Linked DNA regions of Homo sapiens. The protein of the gene in region 2 interacts with the protein of the main gene of each other region in a pairwise test. Each region holds a gene or a part of one and is shown on either strand. Other genes may lie near its edges.

Region 1 (3,600 bases), on a different chromosome or scaffold from region 2:
ACCACCATTGCAGCTGTGTCCTCATCTCTGTCAGCATGCTCATAGACCCTTGGGCCTCAAAATCCCAAGTTTGGGAAGCATTGGATGCCTAGAGACCCATGGTGAGGTTTGCCCAGACGGGGCCCTGGAAAATAGTCACTTGGAGCCCTGAGGGGTGTTTCCAGGAAAACCTGGAATAGGATGGCTGGCTCAGTGTTTTCCAGGTGCTTCTGCTTGATTCTAAGAGAGAGCTCTACCCACTGCCCCACTAACGTCCAGGTTCTCCCCTCAGCTCCCTGAAATAGGTATAATCCAGGAATTTGAGTCTTAGGCACATGTCACCAACTTAGTGGTGAAGGCAGGAATCCTGGGCTTTCAGAGGGTCCAGTCCCCGGATAAAGGGCCCCACGCCCCCTGTCCCTGACCATGTCACAGTCACAGGGTGTGCCCACCGTGGATGGGGCATGGCAGACATCATGGGCCACTGCAGCCTTGAGGTTCTTCGCCATGGTTGCGGCTGACTGTGAGGCCATTATTCATGTCCCTGAATTCCCAGGAGGATTTGGGGTTGCAGTGACTTTCTTGCCCCATCTGTGTCGTTTTTGTCCCACACTCTTGCACCCACATCTGTCTCACCATTACCACATGGCCCGTGTCCTTATTCTGCAAACTTGGATGGCCCCAGACAACTTGGCCAGCAGCAGAAGTCATCAGTGCCCTCAGGTGCCACAGATGCAGGGCTGGGCCTGGGGAGCAGGTAGCGAGGAGGAAGGAAGAAATCCAGGCCTGGCCATGAGCAGGCCACGTGCCTTGGAGCCCAGGATGCCCGGCAACAAAGGGGGACTTGTGATGGCACTGCAGGCTGGCCCGCTGTGGGCACTCCACAAGGACATCGAGAACCACACAGACCGTCAGAGGGTGGCCCCCACATGTGGGTTCTGGGGCTGAAAAAGGCCCAGGGATATTGCTGAGAGGATAGGTGTCATCAGTGCTTTTGGAGTTAGCCCCCCCCCGCCCCCCGTGCTTGAATCTTAAAGGTCACGTCTCTGTGCCTCAGTTTCCCCTTGCATCGCATGGGCATGTTTGCGCTTGTCCACAGCAGTAGCGAGGCTGTGGACCCAGGCTGAGGCGGGGCTGCCCCGAAGCTCTTCCAGGACCCACGAGCCGTCTCCCAGTTGCTCACGTCTAGGTTAGGGAACTGGAAGGGCCTTGGCACTCTCGGCTCCATCTTCACACAGCCGGTTCCCTCTGTGGTGGGGTCACTGGAAGTTGTGTGGATGTCGGGTCAGGACTTCCTGGGCTCAGTTGTGCCTGGTAGGTGGCTCAGGCAGAGCGTGGGGTGAGCAAGGGGTGAAGAGGAGGCCGATTGCAGGGGAGGGTCAGCGTGAGGGGAGTGCTGCTGGCAGTGGGCCTGTGGACCGGCTCCCACCGTCAGGCTGCACCACCCCGTGGGCCATGAGGGGAGCCAGCCGGGCTTGTCAGCGAGTGCGTGGCAGGGGCTGGCCTGTGAGGCAGAAGGGTCACCTCAGCGGCCCGGGGGGCAGGACAAGGCTGGTGCCAGAACCCAGCAGAAAGAAGGGCCACAGGGATGGAGAGGAGGGGGCTGGCTTCCGGGGCTCCACAGAGGTGGGGAGGGCGGCAGCTAATGGGCCTGGCTGTGCAGTGGGTGCTGGGCTCCCCACCACTGTTCTCTGGTGCCGCTGAGGCCTCCCTTCCAGAGCCTGCAGCCGATCAGGCACCTGTGTCTTCTCTCCCCGCGCAGGGCATCATGCTGGTCTACGACATCACCAACGAGAAGTCCTTCGACAACATCCGGAACTGGATTCGCAACATTGAGGAGGTGAGGCCCTCCGGCTCCTCCCACTGTCCCTGCTTCAGTCCTTGTCCCAGAGCCCTCTGGTTTACTCATGAGAAGGCCAAGGTGCAGAGACACATACAGGCCACTTGCCCACAGCCTCCTAGTCAGGGACATGGTGGGAGCAGGGACTGAGATGCAAGCAGCCGGCCCCAGGGACCACACACTGGCCTGGCCCCACCCCGGAGCCCCTCGGAGCCCATCCCTCCAGCTAGGCTGTTGGATCTGGCCAGTGTCATGGTTATAAGAGAAAGGATATCCAAGCTTGTGGTCACCATGAGTGTTGGGTGCTTTCTAGAGAAGGAAGGGTCTAGCACAGGTGTGACCCTTGTAGTTGGAGGGTGTGGTGAGCAGGCGTCAGTTGTACTTTGAGCTATATCGGAGCAGGGTGTGACCTGGTACAAACGACCTGTGTTCAGACCTTGAACCATAGAGCAGTGAGAAGTAGGCCAACCCCTCCTCCCCTCCCAAAGCCAGCATCTTCATCTTCTGCTCCCCAAAGAGCTGACCTCACCCCCAAAGCCTTCCTGGCTGCCGGCACCTGCAGCTTTCTATAACTAACCATGTGGGGCTTCAGGTCTGAGGCACAGCCAGAGAACTTTTCCCATCTATAAAACCACAGCAAAAGGGCATATCACTGTCCACCCAGGACTCATGGACCTCCCAGGCCAGGCCGAGAGGCCACCCCATCATTTGTGAGTCATTGCACTGGGCTCACCTCCCCAGTGACCCTGAGAGGGCTGTGCTGCCAAATTTGCCAGTGCAGGGCTGCACCCCAGCTGGGAAAGCTGTCTTCATCCGTGGAGAGGAGGAGAGCCTGGTCTTTGTGAAAGGTCTCTGTTTCTGGCCAGCGGGCAGGAGCCACCTTCTGGTTCATGGGAAGTGAGGCAGGGAGTGGCGCAGTAGGTTCCAGAGACCAAGTCTGAGCTGGTGGAAGAAGACAGCAGTTTCCAGTGTCCCCGTCCTCCAGGAAGCGTGGTCCGCTCCATGGGGACCCAGGGAGACTTGACGAAGGAGCTGCCTTTGGGTATGAGGGCAGAGTTTGGGCAACATCAGACAGGGTGGTGAAGTGCCTGCAGCTGGTGACGGCCTCGAGTTGCGACCACCTCAGGCACGGCCTGTTTCTGGAGCCCAAAAATAGTTGAAATGTCAGGGCCAGGCGAGGTGGCTTATGCCTGTAATCCCAGCAGTTTGGGAGGCTGAGGCGGGCAGATCACCTGAGGTCAGAAGTTTGAGACCAGCCTAGCCAACATGGCGAAACTCTGTCTCTACTAAAAATACAAAAAATTAGCCTGGTATGGTGGCAGATGCCTGTAATCTCAGCTATTCGGGAGGTTGAGGATCGCTTGAACCTGAAGGCAGAGGTTGCAGTGAGCCGAGATCATGCCACTACACTCCAGCCTGGGAGACAGAACGAGACTCCATCTCAAAAAAAAACAAAAAAAAAAGTGTCAAAGCAGAAGGTCCCAGGACAACAGCTGGGGCCTCTTGCAGAGGAGCCAGGGAGGGAAGGAGGAAAGCCAAGGTCGGGGGGTAAATATCTCAGCCTCACTCACCTCCCATAGGCTAGACCCGCCCAGCATCCCAGGTGCGGGGGCTTGATTGATACAGCCATAGAAGCTGCCAGAAAGCATTTCAGAAAATGTGCATTTGCTCAGAGTAGCAGCTAGAACCCTGGCCCCAGCCCTGGCATTGGCTGTGTGACATGGGGCCGGCTGCTTGGCCTCTCTGAGCTTCAGCTTGTCCCTTAGACCAGGCTGTACCTA
Region 2 (4,113 bases):
GGAGGCTGAGGTGCGAGGAATGTCTGAGCCCAAATATTCAAGATCAGCCTGGGCAACATGGGAAACCCATTTCTACAAAAAATACAAAAATTAGCCAGGCATGGCGGCATGATCCTGTAGTCCCAGCTATTCCGGAAGTTGAGATGGGAGGATCGCTTGAACCCAGGAGGCAGAGGTTGCAGTCAGCCGGGATTACACCACTGCACTCTGGCCTGGGCAACAGAGTGAGATCTCGTCTCAATCAATCAATCAAAAGATCTATAAAAATATTAAAATATGTGTTTTTTAGGCCAGGTGCGGTGGCTCACGCTTGTAATCCCAGCACTTTGGGAGGCCGAGGCAGGGGGATCACCTGAGGTCAAGAGTTTGAGACCAGCCTGGACAACATGGTGAAACCCCTTCTCTATTAAAACTACAAAAATTAGCCGGGCGTGCTGGCGCGTGCCTGTAATCCCAAACTACTAGGGAGGCTGAGGCAGGAGAATTGCTTGAACCTGGAAGGTGGGAGTTACAGTGATCTGAGATCGCACCACTGCACTCCAGCCTGGGCGACAGCACAAGACTCTGTCTCAAAAATAAATTTTTTAAAAAATGGGCCAGGCATGGTGGCTCATGCCTGTAATCCCAACACTTTGGCAGGCCAAGGTAGGCAGATAACAAGGTCAGGAGTTCAAGACCAGCCTGGCTAACATGGTGAAACCCCATCTCTACTAAAAATACAAAAAGTAGCTGGGCATGGTGGCTCATGCCTATAATCCCAGCTACTCAGAAGGCTGAGACAGAAGAACTGCTTGAATCCAGAAGGCAGAGGTTGCAGTAAGCCAAGATCGTGCCTCTGCACCCCAGCCTGGGCAACAGAGCGTGAAACTCAGTCTCAAAAATAAATAAAATTAAAAAATAAAATATCAAGTGTGGGCCAAGTGTGGTGGCTCACGCCTGTAATCCCAGCACTTTGGGAGGTTGAGGCAGATGAATCACTTGAGGTCAGGAGTTTTACACCACCCTGGCCAACATGGTGAAACCCTGTCTCTACTGAAAATACAAAAATTAGCCGGGTGTAGTGGTGCACACCTGTAATCCCAGCTACTCAGGCAGCTGAGGCAGGAGAATTGCTTGAACCTGGGAGGCAGAGGTTGCAATGAGCTGGGATAGTGCCACTGCACTCCAGCCTGGGTGACAGAGTGAGACTCTGTCTCAAAAAAAAAAAAAATTATGAATGAATGAGAACACTAAAACAAGAACAATGAATGTCAATACCTATTTTCCTGCCCATGAGTCTTACGGGTCCCATGTTCATACACTTCCAAAGACAAGAAGTGTCAAAAGTCTCCATTTAAACAAAAATCATTTTGTTACTGCTTTAAGTGCTGATTCCATGGGAACAAGTTAGAAAATTCTCAGTAGTGTCTCTCACCTCTGCATTCAGTCATCCTATTGTTTTGTTTTTTGGTAAGAAACAGGGTCTTGCCCTGTTGTCAAGGCTGGAGTGCCGTGGCCATGATAACTCACTGCAGTCTCAAACTCCTGGGCTTAAGTGATCCTCCTGCCTTAGCCTCCTGAGTAGCTAGGACTACAGGCTCACACCATCACACCCAACTAATTTTTTTTATGGTTTTTGGGGAAGAGGGGTCTCACTACGTTGCCCAGGCTTGAACTCATCCTTTTTTTTTTTTTTTTAAAGCAAAAGGCCACAAAAAAGCAGACACAAAATCACATAATCCATTCCCAGTAAAGATATTCTCTCTTCAGTCCATTCTCTGCATGTATGAGTCTATCTCAAAAAGGAGGGAAGGAGCCAGGCGCGGTGGTTCACAGTGGCAATCCCAGCACTTTAGGAGGCCAAGGCGGGCGGATCACCTGAGGTCAGGAGTTCAAGACCAGCCTGACCAACATGCAGAAACCCCAACTCCACTAAAAATACAAAATTAGCCAGGCGTGGTGGCGCATGCCTGTAATCCCAGCTACTTGAGAGGCTGAGGCAGGAGAACTGTTTGAACCCAGGAGGCGAAGGTTGCAGTGAGCCGAGATGGCACCATTGCACTCTAGCCTGGGCAACAAGAGAAACTCCATCTCAAAAAAAAAGAAAAGAAAAGAAAAGAAAAGAAAAAGAAAAGGAAGGAAGACAATGCCTCTTCGTTTTTATGTGTAATCTCCCTCTACTGAATGATGCTAAATGAGCTCTCACTTTGAGAATAACAGTGATAACATAAAAGACCCACAGAATCACTAAGAACTAAATTCCTAAAGGTTCTTTAAACTCGTATGTCTACTTTTCAGAAGTTTCTTTTTTTTTTCTTTTTTCTTTTTTGAGAGGTAGTCTCACTCTACTGCCCAGGCTGGAGTACAGAGGCACGATCCCAGCTCACTGCAACCTCCATCTCCCGGGTTCAAGCAATTCTTCTGCATCAGCCTCCCCAGTAGCTGGGATTACAGGCACCCACCACCACACCCAGATAATTTTTGTATTTTTAGTACAGACAGGGTTTCATCATGTTGGCGAGGCTGGTCCCACACTCCTGACCTCAAGTGATCCATCTGCCTCGGCCTCCCAAAGTGCTGGGACTATAGATGTGAGCCACCACACCTGGCCCTTTTTTAAAAGTTACAGCAAATCATGCCTGTTTTAAAAGAATCAGAAGTTGCAGAAAAACCCTAACATACCCAGTTATAACCTCTCTCTCCAGATCATTTTGTATCCAGATTTTTATTTTAAAAAATCACTGGGCTGGGGCACAGTGGCTCACCCCTGTAAGTCCCAACACTTTGGCAGGATCCACAAGGCAGGAGGATCACTTGAGCCCAGGAGTTCCAGACCAGACTGGGCAACACAGTGAGACCTTGTCTCTGTAAAAAATTTAATTAGCCCAGTGTGGTAACGCATGTCTGTGGTCCTAGCTACTCAGGAGGCTGAGGCAAGAGGATCACTTGAGCCCAAGAGATTGAGGCTGCAGTGAACTGTGACTGTGCCACTACACCCCAGCCTAGGCGATTGAGACTCTGTCTCCAAAAAGAATTTAAATTTAAAAGTCACTGATTTTAAAATAAATTATTCAATAGGTTCACAGGGCTTATTCTGGATAGAGTCAACAGGATGTTCTGGCTGAAAAAGTGAAATTGAAACAGAGTAGAAAGTGAGGAGCTAGCTATGTAAAATTCTAAGGAGAGCATTCTAGAGCATGGGCAAAGGCATCAGACGGGTCTTGGTTAAAGAATGGAGAGGTGTGTCACAGGCAGCCCAAAGGAGAGAGTGATGGGCGATAAGATGACAGATTTCTTGATTAGCATCTGAAACCGGTCCAAATCTATCTAAAATTAGCCCTTCTTTAGGTTGTTTTTAAAGAATCCCTAAAACAGCAGACTAGCTCCACACTAGAAATTCAAATAAAAGCAAAGGAAAAAGTCAGAAGGTATTCAAAATATGTCCTATCAATATAAAGATTAAATTTTTGATGCCTTGCTGAGAATTCCTGCAAGCAAGAGATCATAGCACCTCACACATTCCTAAAACATTCTATCTACATACCCACCTAAGTTTCCACAGAGGTGCTCAGAATTTACTTTACTCTCTCTGGTGATGGATAATTTCCATGCTTTCAAATCACTTTTGCTGTAAATACCCTGAGGCACTTACTTTGGTATAAAAGACTCTTGGTCTCCGCATTAAAGACACAAACAGGCCGGCACGGTGGCTCATGCCTGTAATCCCAGCACTTTGGGAGGCTGAGGCGGGCAGATCACGAGGTCAGGAGATTGAGACTATCCTGGCTAAAATGGTGAAACCCCGTCTCTACCAAAAATACAAAAAAATTAGCCAGGCGTGGTGGCACGTGCTTGTAATCCCAGCTACTCAAGAGGCTGAGGCAGAATCGCTTGAACCCGGGAGGCGGAGGCTGCAGTGAGTCAAGATTGTGCCACTGCACTCCAGCCTGGGTGACAGAGCAAGACTCCGTCTCAAAAAAAAAAAAAAAAAAAAAAAAGGCGCAAACAAAGCACTCACAGAAAACTAAACACAGAATTCACTCTACATATTGGCCAAAGGGAGACAATTTCTGGATACTGAGCAACACACAATTTATGATCTTATGTGAAAACTGATGGCCGGGTGTGGTGGCT

Evidence for each region.
Region 1: the proteins of SPAG9 (region 2) and RAB8A interact in binary tests that used the Homo sapiens proteins (3 or more experiments, as listed by UniProt).

The regions. Positions count from the first base shown.
Region 1 is NC_000019.10:16,123,729-16,127,328, forward strand, and holds part of RAB8A (ras-related protein Rab-8A), read left to right. Parts: exon of another isoform or gene 1-1,741; coding exon 1,742-1,819; exon of another isoform or gene 1,820-3,259; intron 3,260-3,600. UniProt on the Homo sapiens protein: The small GTPases Rab are key regulators of intracellular membrane trafficking, from the formation of transport vesicles to their fusion with membranes.
Region 2 is NC_000017.11:51,113,756-51,117,868, forward strand, and holds part of SPAG9 (C-Jun-amino-terminal kinase-interacting protein 4), read right to left. Parts: intron 1-4,113. UniProt on the Homo sapiens protein: The JNK-interacting protein (JIP) group of scaffold proteins selectively mediates JNK signaling by aggregating specific components of the MAPK cascade to form a functional JNK signaling module.